2 separate regions of the Homo sapiens genome follow, and region 2 is linked to region 1. The links come from fine-mapping of genetic effects on gene expression. Tissue or cell type: monocytes. Region 1 holds a variant in brackets; the other region holds the start of a gene. All regions are shown on one strand. Distances are from middle to middle.

Region 1 (5,222 bases):
GAATATTTTATTTTCTACTTAGGTTTCCCTTTCAAATGTTTCAGGTGTACGAAGCCATCGACAGCAGAGATGGAGCATCTTGTGCAGAGTTGGTGTCTTTTAAACATCCTCATGTTGCAAACCCACGACTTCAAGTAGGTGAAAGAGCTGTGCACACAGGTGTCTGCAGACAATTACAGGGTAACCACTTTCCTAAGAGAAGCGTAGAGTTTGAGTAAGAAGAAAACTAATATTGTCACTCTTATTTGAAAATTTTAAAGTTTCTTTATGATTTATGTAATTTCAATCCATTTGTGGAGCACTGACTATGTACGCACACTGTGGTGATGTGGACCTCCTGCCCTTGTGTTTGATTCCTAGACAGCTCTCTGAGGTTTAGAGAAGTTAGATGGTGGAGAGGCGGTGGAGCTTAGATTCTGTCTAGGCCTGTGCGTCCCCAAAGCCCCATAGACGTCATGTACCACAGGTGTCTCCCATTTAAGTTGTTAGTCAGAAAGGCTGGCAAGCCAAGGCCCAGCCTGGGGTTGTACATGGAGTTTCCATGTCATCTGTGGCGTAGATGATGTTGAGGCAGTATTTTCTATAGAAAATCTTGTGGACATTTGGTAAAGCCCTGTTTCCTCATTGACACCCTTTATCATATTGGAGTGTGTTCCTACTGGAAGCAGCATTTTTCTTTTGGAAGAAAAATGGGCTTATCTATTGGTGATTATGTTTGGCGGTGTACAGACTTGCAACTCAGACCAGGTAAATCAGTCTCTGAAGTAGCAGCAGGCCTGTTTTTGTTTTTCTAATAAAGTTACCTAGGTGATTCTATGTGTAGACAGTGTTGAAAACCATTGCTCTAAGTAGGAGTTAGTGCTAGAGACTCGATGAGACTCAGGCTTGCCTTGGCCAGAACACCCCATGGCTGGTGCCCTGTGCTTTGTATTGTATGACATGAGAGGACACACACTGTCCTGTTTGCAATCTGAGACAGATCCCTTCATTGTAAAATTCCCCAGTAAACTTTCTTTCGGTGGTTTCATTCACCAGGGACTGTAGAATGGTGATTTTTCTGATACTGTCATTCTTCTCTCTCACCATATCAGCATGGGCTCATTGCTTTTGTAAACAAAACCAAACAAAACAAAAAAACGCAGTGTGCTTATAATCCATTGTGTGTTAGTCTGGGTTCTCCAGAGAAACAGAGCCAGTGGGATATATCAATATTTATAGAGATTTAGTATGAGGAACTGGGTCCTGTGATTGTAGAGGTCAAGAAATCCCACACAAGGAGTGAATTCTTTCTTCCTCGACCTCTTGTTCTATTCAAGCCCTCATCAGATTGGCCATTGCCCGTCCACACTGAGGAGGGCCATCTACTTTCCTGAGTCTACTAGTGCAACTGCCAGTCTCATCCAGAAACACCCTCACAGACACTCCCAGAAATAACATTGTCTGGGGACTCCACAGCTAGTCAAGTTGGCAAAATTAACCATCACCTGTTGAGATGTTCAGATTATCTAAAATTTGACTGTTAGGAGGAAAGGAAAACTTAGAAAGAAATGTCAGCTAGACTAGCCCAGGAGATGAGACTGGTGGTCTCAGCAGGAAGCCGAGAAGAACGAGTCCTAACATAGCACCATCTGTAACTCATTAGACCTCACTTACTAAACCTATGACAGTTACTTAACAAGTATTTCTTGACTGACTGGTCAAGAATACTAATATACTGAAATGTATATGAAAGTGCCTAGAATATTTTCTGACTTGCAGAAGGCGAGACCAAATTATATTCATGGGCTTCTTTTTCCCCTGAAATATTGATAAATATTTGTTGAAGTAATGAACCATTTATTTATTTATTTATTTATGAGACAGAGTCTCCCTCTGTCACCCAGGCTGTAGTGCAGTGGCACGATCTTGGCTTACTACAACCTCCCCCACCCATGTTCAAGCGATTCTCATGCCTCAGCCTCCTGAGTAGCTGGGATTACCAGCGTGTACCACCACATCCAGCTAATTTTTGTAATTTTTTTTGTAGAGACGGGCTTTCACCATGTTGGCCAGGCTGGTCTTGAACTTCTAGCCTCAAGTGATCTGCCCACCTCGCCCTCCCAAAGTGCTGGGATTACAGGCATGAGCCACTGTGCTCACGGCCTGAACCTTTTATTTAGAGTGGTAAATATAAAGTGTTACTGTGAACTGTAAAGCATAAATTCTCTTGAAACAGAGGTTTAAATCTCTTTCTATATGTTGCATTCTTTCTGTGCCTATTAATTTTACTTTTGCTATTTTTCTTTTTTAAAATCAGATGGCCTCTCCAGAGGAGAAGTGTCAACAAGTCTTGGAACCCCCTTATGATGAAATGTTTGCAGCTCATTTAAGGTAATCTGTTGGGGAGGAAGAAAAACACACACATCTGGAAATTGCTGAATTAACTGGGGATTTTATCTTGCATTATCTTGTGCTTGAAGCAGTGAATAACTGACTTTGAAAAAGTGGGAAAATGCATTTGTAACTTCAGTTTGGTAAAGCCTGTGGAAATTGTAAACATCAGTTATATAATACTATTTTTAACATCACACAGTATTTAGCAGAGTGCCTGCT[T/C]AGTGGTCTTTTTAGTAGAGTTTGGAGCCGAACTGTTCACTTACCCTTTTCGTGGAAATATGTCTGTTTTTGAAGCTCTTTACGTTACTGGGAAAGAAATTAGAGTTGAGCAAAGCAAACAATGCTACTTTTTATGTACACTTCATATCTACTGTTTTATCTCTAAAGGATCAGTTCAGGCAGAAGATTGTGTCCTTATAGCCATGTGAGATTTGATTACTGTCTTTCAGAGCAGCCTGGGCTACAGGACCAGTGTGGGGTCTGTGAGCAGGAATGTTCTGTGAACCCCACAGGGTCTTTGGAAGAGTTGGGGCACCACCGTGTTCCTTGTAGTACAAAGCACCTGTGATTTCCTAGCTCTGTGCAGTGTGCGATAGGTTCCAGATTTGGCGATGAACTAACACTGACATTACCCAGCTGGGAATCTAGTTTGAATGTCATTGTCAGCCCCTGCTAGAGTGGAAGGGTCATACTATGTTATCAACATGTGTTACTCATAAACCTGCTGGTGCTAGGTCCTTCTGGGACTTGAAAGAGTAGTCTCCAAGCTTACTGTGGGACTTCCTCTTATCCTCACCTGTTTGTGTTCAGCCATTTGTGTGTTTCTTCCTTCACTCCTTTCATCCCAGGACCACTGGGACCTGTGCAATGAAGTGAGCTGTGTGGGCTGCATAACTAGTGCTAGGTTTTTATTGTGTGACAGCATGTTTCTGTTTCTCCTCCAGGTGCACTTATGCAGTGGGGAATCATGACTTCATAGAGGCATACAAGTGCCAGACCGTGATAGTCCAATATCCTTTGTCGTTCATGGCAGCTGTCCCGCATAGAACACATGCAGTGGATTACTTGGGACTTGAGACCCGGAAACACTGGGCCAGTTGCTCATTTCTGCAGTTAGAAAGGAATGACAGTGTTTTGGAACAGAAGCTCGTTTCAGCTCTTTCACTTGGGTACTTAAATTTAGCATGGATCTGAAGACTCGTGCAGTACTTAGTAAGGAAGAACACTGGTTAGGAAGAAGGATCTTACTCTGCTGAGAAGAAGAATGCTTTGTTGCCTTTAGTAAGGTAGTAAGTATATTTACAGGGACTGGTTAAGTCCTGTTGGTGAAATACCAGAAATCCAGAATTCAGGCAGAGATGGACAAGAGTGGCCTCAGATGTACATCGGCATTGAATTGTGGCAGCTGAAGACCTTAAATCAAACCAATTCATACTTCAGTCATTTAAAGGGTATCTTTAGTTACGGCCTGAGTCAGTGAGTGTGCTAAGGATTTGTATGTATCTCTAGATTTTGTCTTTTCGTTTTAACCACCTTGTTTAAATATACACAGAAGAGAGTTGGGCTATTTGCTCACAGCCTCCTTAGAATTCAAGAATTCTAGAGTTGATAAAATCAGCCTTATGCTACAGATTCTAAAGCACTTAAATATAACTCATGATCATCTGGGCTCAGAGAAACCAAATAAAATGTCAGAAAGGGCTGATTTTAAAAAATCTTGTAAGTCTTTTTTATTTAGGAGACAGTGTGTATGAAATAAGTGTATTTAGTATACTTGAGCCTAATGAGATACAGATATTTGTAATGTGAGCTTATACCTTTTTTCCTTCAAGAACTTACTATTGTTGCAACATAAATCTGCTCAAGGGTGATCTACATTCCTTAAAATTTAGATTCTTATTCTTTACTTTTATCGTACGTAGCATTATTTGAACTTTGTATGCCATATCTTCCTTAATACAGTACATCATTCTTGCGAGCATTCCAGGCCCACAAAGAAGAAAACTGGTAAGTGTGAACAGAAACAGCTGAATTAGCAAATGGCAATTTTTTTAGCAGAATCTTTTTACAAATTTGCTTTAAATAAATGTGTATTGTATTTTCCATGTGGATATTTGGTAATCAGTGTGTTGACATATGGTAATATCTACACAGATGAGTGGAGTCACAAATCTAGTAAACTGAAATGGTAGATCAGCCACATTGTTTGCAGTGTGTCTATGTCAATATAGTATTATTTTTATTTCAGATGTCCATTTCCCTAGATATTTATTAAATACTGTTTTTTCCTTCAGTTGTCAATTTTGAACTTTTGGTTTTAAACCTTAGATAAAAGAGGTAGACCAACTACGGTTCATTTGGGGTGTTCTAATACATAATAATGGTGGTATTTTTAAATGCCTTGCCAAACTAAATTTTATGATTTATTAACAAACTATAGGTTAATACTGAAATTTGTTTATACTGAAATAACCAAAGGCCTTTTGCAAACAAACCCGCCCTTTTATCTTTTTTTTTTTTTGAGAAGGAGTCTTGCTCAGTCGCCGAGGCTGGAGTGCAGTGGCGCAGTCTTGGCTCACTGCAGCCTCTGCCTCCCGCCACCCTTTTATCTTTTAACGTGAAAACTTGCACATGAAAACAGTCCAGTTTTGCCAGTTGGCTGTAAAAGTTGTTTTGTGACATTTTGTGTATTACATATTCTGGTTCCTGTTAGGAAATCTGATCAAACCACTTCTTTTTTAGTGGTGCTGTTTGGATACTGGTGGGAAGCTGAGGGGAGGAGGATATCCTGGGAGCCCAGAACTGAAGCAGGGCTGAGGTCTCTGACAGGGTTGGGGACAGGGGTGTGG
Region 2 (5,222 bases), 44 kb after region 1:
TGAATTGCACCAGCCTGGCAATCTACGTGGCCTTCACTTAAGAAAAGGTGCCTTTTTTTGTGTGAAAATGTATTCCCACATGGAAATTTACATTAAAAATACTTCTGCTGGATAGTTTAAAAACCATCAATAGCTGCCTAAAAATGGAAAGGCAGACAGGGACATACACATTCGATCAATAAGTGTTAATTAAGCACATCCTATATGCCTGACATGGGTATCTGAGCTACAACCTCTTCCCTCATGGACCATTTTAGTCTGTTGGGGCTGCTGTAACAAAACACCTTAGAGTGGGTAATTTACGATAAACAGAAACGTAGTGCTCACAGTTCTGGAGGATGGGAAGTCCAAGATCAAGGCTCCAGTAGACTCAGTGTCTGGTGACGGCCCATGATTCATAGACGTGTCCTTGGATGGTGGAAGGGAGGAATGTGGGTGCTCCCTGGAGCCTCTTTTGGGAGGGCAGTCATCCATCCATGAAGGCAGAGTGCCTCCCAGAGGCCCCACCTCCTAGTACTATTGCACAGGGGGTTAGGTTTCAACGTGAGTTTTGGGGGATGGTTTGGCTCTGTGTCCCCAACCAAATCTCACCTTGAATTGTAATAATCCCCACAGGTCAAGGGCAGGACCAGGTGGAGGTGATTGAATCATGGAGGTGGTTCTTGTGATAGTGAGTGCATTCTCACAAGAGCTAATGATTTTATAAGGGGCTTCCCCCTGTGATTGACACACATTTTCTCTCTCCTGCCACCCTGTGAAGAGGTGCCTGCTTGCCATGATTATGTTTCCTGAGGCCTCCCCAGCCATGTGGAACTGTGAGTTCATTAAACCGCTTTTCTTTATAAATTACCTAGTCTCAAGTATTTCTTCACAGTGACATGAGAACAGACTAATACAGGAAGGCATCAACATCGAGGCCACAGCTGTGATTGACTGTGTTGTACGTGGACTGACCGTGTTGTATGTGGTGATTTAATTTTCTCATCTGCCTTCTCAAAGATACCACCTTTGGACCAAAAATTCTACAATAATAAATTGTCCAAACATTAAGATTCACCTCGTTCTACTCATCTTCCTCATCTCTCATATGAATAATCGTTCTTCTGTCACCCTCTTCTGTTCTGAAAAACAAACCAACCAACATTGGGACACTTTTTCCATTGACTGGTTTACTTTCCTTCTGTATACCTGAGGAGAATCTTCCTTCCTTTGGGGTCTTTGTCGTGTCCTTCAGATGTTGGGGTGTCCTCTGTGGGGGTCCCCAGCTTAAATCAACTGACCCCACAACTTTGTGTGGAACCTGAAATGAGCAGCCTATGGAGAACCTGGTCATTGAATACTTAGATCTTGCCGCAGTCCCTATTTAAATACCTGTTCAATCAACTCTGGGACCTATGTTTTAGATTTCAACATCTCTGAATTGGCCTGTTCCCTACAGCCAATGTTCTAATGTCAGCCTGGACAAGGCCGAGTTCTTCCTGAAAGGGGTTGTGCTTTATGTTGCCCCCTGGGGGCACTGCCACTTTGCAATCCCTTTAAATACATTTTTTTGTGTGAGTTTTGGGAGCCCATGTGAATAGTGTAAATGTATTGCAAAGCTGGTTCCTGGCTGGCCTGTGGTTTAGATTATCTGAGCTTCCCCCTCTTGCCTCCAGGCTGAGCTGACCCACAGCTAATTTGGGTATATGCTCTTTCTTTCAGGTTCATCAATAATGGTGCGTCTTAGATTCACAGAGTAGAGTGTGGTCTAGTCCACTTTGTGGTGCTGTAACAGGATATCTGAGACTGGGTAATTTATAAAGAACAGAAATTTATTTCTTACAGTTCTGGAGGCTGGGACATCAAAGGTCCAGGGGCCCCCATCTGGCGAGGGCCTTCTTGCTGCGTCATCCCATGGTGGAAGGTGGATGCGCGTGAGAGAGAGAGAGAGAGAGAGAGAGAGAGAGAGAAAGGGGAGAGAGGAAGGGGGCCAAACTCATCCTTTTATTCCAAAATAACGAACCCACTCCTACAATAGTGGTATCAATTCATTCACGTGGGCTCTGACAATGAATGCGTCTTAAAGGTCCCACCTCTCAACACTGTTGCCTTGGGATTAAGTTTCCAACACGTGCACTATAGGGACACATTCAAACCACAGCATGCTGCATCCTCTGATGTCCACATTGTGGATGGAGGTGGCAGCTTATCACCTGGAGCTCCTGAAGAAATTAAAGAGGAGACACATGGTGACGCAGCCCACAGCCTGGCGTTTTTAGCATCTCAGAAGCACTGACAGGGACCCGCAAGCTTATGAGAAACTGTTCAACTCATTGGGCTTCCTCAGAGCTTGGGAGACCATTAATGTGGAAGACACTATCTGGACATGTTTCTCTTTTTTCCACCTGTCTAGATTTTCTTTCAGGATCGGGGAGACTTCTGGAGTAGAAAAGCCACTCCAGAACCCTTCCTCCTCCTCCCCCACACCCCGCCTCATGAGCGGCTGCCCTCCGCGTGGCATGGAGTCCCCGCGTCCACTCAGAACCCTTCCTCCTCCTCCCCCGCGCCCCGCCTCCCCCGCGCCCCGCCTCCCCCGCGCCCCGCCTCCCCCGCGCCCCGCCTCCCCCGCGCCCCGCCTCCCCCGCGCCCCGCCTCCCCCGCGCCCTGCGTCACGTGCCCCTGCCCTCCCCGACGCCCCGCCCCCCACGCCCCTCCTCCCCCACGGCCCGCCCCCCCACGCCCCTCCTCCCCCACGGCCCGCCCCCCCACGCCCCTCCTCCCCCGCGCCCCGCCTCCCCCGCGCCCCGCCTCCCCCACGCCCTGCGTCACGTGCCCCTGCCCTCCCCCACGCCCCGCCCCCCACGCCCCGCCCCCACGCCCCGCCTCCCCCACGCCCCGCCCCCCGCGCCCCGCCTCCTCCACGCCCCGCCTCCCCCACGCCCTGCGTCACGTGCCCCTGCCCTCCGCGCAGCATGGAGTCCCTGCGTCCCGGCTCCACGGTGCGGGAGTCCTCCGTGGTGGCTGAATTCGCCTTTCAGGCCCTATGTTCAGGATTTGTGATCTGGGTTTTAAAAACATTTTTTAGAAGTCATTGGTAATTAAAAACAATAAGTTTTTTATTGTGGTAAAATAGACATACAGTTTACCGCAGGAATCTTTTTTTAAGCGTACAGTTGGCTGACCCTGAGTGAATTCGCTGTTGATAATCTGCTTCTCCCTGAGCTGCTGTCGCCCACACTCGCCGCTGGCCGTGCTTGTTTTTCTCCTGGAACTGGGGCCGGTGTCCCTGTTGACCTTGTCCCGGGTAGCTGAGCCCAGGGGACTCTCCTTCCTAGGGTTACCGCTCAGTATCAGCACAGCCACAACGTCCAGCCAGGGAGGGCATCCGAGGCCCTCAGCACCCACCCCGGGGGTCCGGCCCGCGTCAGGCTGCGAGTTCCCGAGTCCCTGGACCCAGCTGTGCCTGCTGGGGTCAGCGCAGTCTGTGAGCCTCGACCCCCAGCTCCCAGCAAGGCCTCCCAGCAAGGCCTGTCGGAACCCAGCGGAGACCGGCGGCTGGGGCTTGTCCTCGAGCGGGGGCGCAGGACACGGGGCGCGGGGCTCCTGCCCTTGCAGCGTCCTGTCAGGATGGACGACCCAAGCCAGACGGCGCTCCCTCCCGCCACACCTGGCCGTACTGGCCTCCAGCCATGCCGGTGCTGCCGAGGCCCCCGTGTGGGACAGGCCCCCGCTCCCGCCCGTCCTCCTGGCTGCATCTGCACCCGCCCGTACCCGCACCGGGCCTCACTGGCCCCTTCTCAGACCGGCACAGCCAGGTAGGTCCTCCCTAAGCACCACAGGTCGGGGCGGCTGGGCGTTTTGTAAGGACAAACTGCGACCGTGAACCCCGGGACGGCTCAGCACCCAGGCAGCGCGGCCTCTGAACGCTGTCTGCGGACTCGTCTCTCCTCCCCACTGGCCCGGCCACACGTCCATCCAGCCCCGCTGTCTCCCTCTTTCTGTGTCTGTCTCTCCGCCCTCTTTGTGTCTTGGTGTCTCCTCTCTCTCTCCCTCTCCCTGTCTGTCTCTCAGCATCTCTCTCTGTCTCTGTCTCCTGTGTCTCACTGTGTCTTTCTCTGTGTCTCCATGTCTCTGTTTCTCTCTTGTTCTATTCTCAATTTTTTTGTTTGTTTTTTACCTGGACTTACTCCCTCCCCTCTGTTTCTCTTTCTCTGTCTCTCTCTTTCTCTTTGTCTCTGTCTCTCTCTTTCTCTCTGTCTCTGTCTCTCTCTTTCTCTCTGTCTCTGTCTCTCTCTTTCTCTCTGTCTCTGTCTCTCTCTTTCTCTCTGTCTCTGTCTCTCTTTCTTTTTGTCTCTCTGGCTCTGCCTCTCTCCCTCTCCCCTCGCCCCCGCTGAGCGCTGTCTGACGGGAACCCCCAGCAGTCTCCCTCGCTCTCCTGGCAGCCTGCAGACTCCTCTGGTCTCACTGACTGCAGAGTCACTGGCTGTTTCTGGTCTTTGCTGACGCTGACGTTTTTTAAGAGTCTATGGTTTCCTCCATCTGGACTTGCCTGACTCAGGATCGGGCTCTGCTTAGACAGTGTTTTGGCAGCCCCCTGCCTTCGGCTCAGGAGGAGGCTGGGTCCCCAGGTTTTGCCACGCTAAAGGCATGCTTTCCTGGCATAGTTAACAGGCCAGTTCTGAGGTGATCCTCTGAGTCTCGAGGGTGTCCAGTTTCTCAGTGCCCTTCCACCAAGGTGGGGTCTTCATGGCGGGCGCTTGCCCACATCAGTGGCTACCCCGTGGCTGTGGAGTGGGGTCCTTCTAAACGGGAGCTTAACCCCCAGCCCTGCTGAGATGGCTCCATGACAGTGATGGTGGGGCCGAGGTCTGCCGTCCACCAGCTGTCCTGGCTGAAGCTCTCATTCCTGCTTCCTCTTCCTCACAGCCTGGGCTGCGTGTTCCCAGACGGCAGGCCCATCTCCCCATCCAAGCGCAGCTCTGGACCCACACAGGCTGGTCTCCCAGCACCCACAAGGGCCTCCCTGCCCCACCAGGCCCCCGACACCCGCTCTCACCTTCGTCCTCCAGAGGTGGACGCCCCAAAGCTCCCCTTCCTGCTCAGGGGGAGGGGAGGTGTCACTGGGGGAGGCGATGGGGCTGCTGCAGGTTCTCTCTCCCTCACTCTCAGGCGGAATCACTTCTCCCACCTTCGCTCCCCACCGTGACCTCCTGCTGCTCTCGGTCCTCAGGGTCTCACCTCTG

Alleles and levels. Alleles are on the strand shown, and positions count from the first base shown. SD is a standard deviation of normalised expression in the study named.
With allele T in place of C in region 1, the expression in monocytes of the gene that starts at base 2,952 in region 2 is lower (large effect, 1.1 SD a copy in Quach 2016).

Evidence for each region. PIP is the estimated chance that this variant, and not a neighbour inherited with it, causes the effect.
Region 2: F10-AS2 starts here. The variant in region 1 is fine-mapped to the expression of F10-AS2 in monocytes (Quach 2016, PIP 0.95). The same link has a PIP of 0.9 or more in monocytes after LPS, monocytes after Pam3CSK4 and monocytes after R848.

The regions. Positions count from the first base shown.
Region 1 is chr13:113,195,339-113,200,560 of GRCh38, reverse strand. It overlaps PCID2 (PCI domain containing 2), which reads left to right. Exons shown (of 14, transcript NM_001127202.4): 2 at 45-134; 3 at 2,297-2,370; 4 at 3,318-3,383; 5 at 4,339-4,380. Among named protein-coding and RNA genes, the nearest start is that of PCID2, 11 kb to the left of the region's middle. The variant T/C (reference allele first, on the strand shown) is at 2,593.
Region 2 is chr13:113,151,716-113,156,937 of GRCh38, reverse strand. F10-AS2 (F10 antisense RNA 2) reads left to right here and starts at 2,952. Exons shown (of 3, transcript XM_011537532.4): 1 at 2,952-3,024; 2 at 3,168-3,794. The coding sequence starts at 2,952. LOC124903216 (a long non-coding RNA gene) reads right to left here and starts at 2,438. Exons shown (of 4, transcript XR_007063880.1): 1 at 2,073-2,438; 2 at 1,823-1,881; 3 at 1,058-1,121; 4 at 328-408. RefSeq lists a silencer at 2,522-2,571.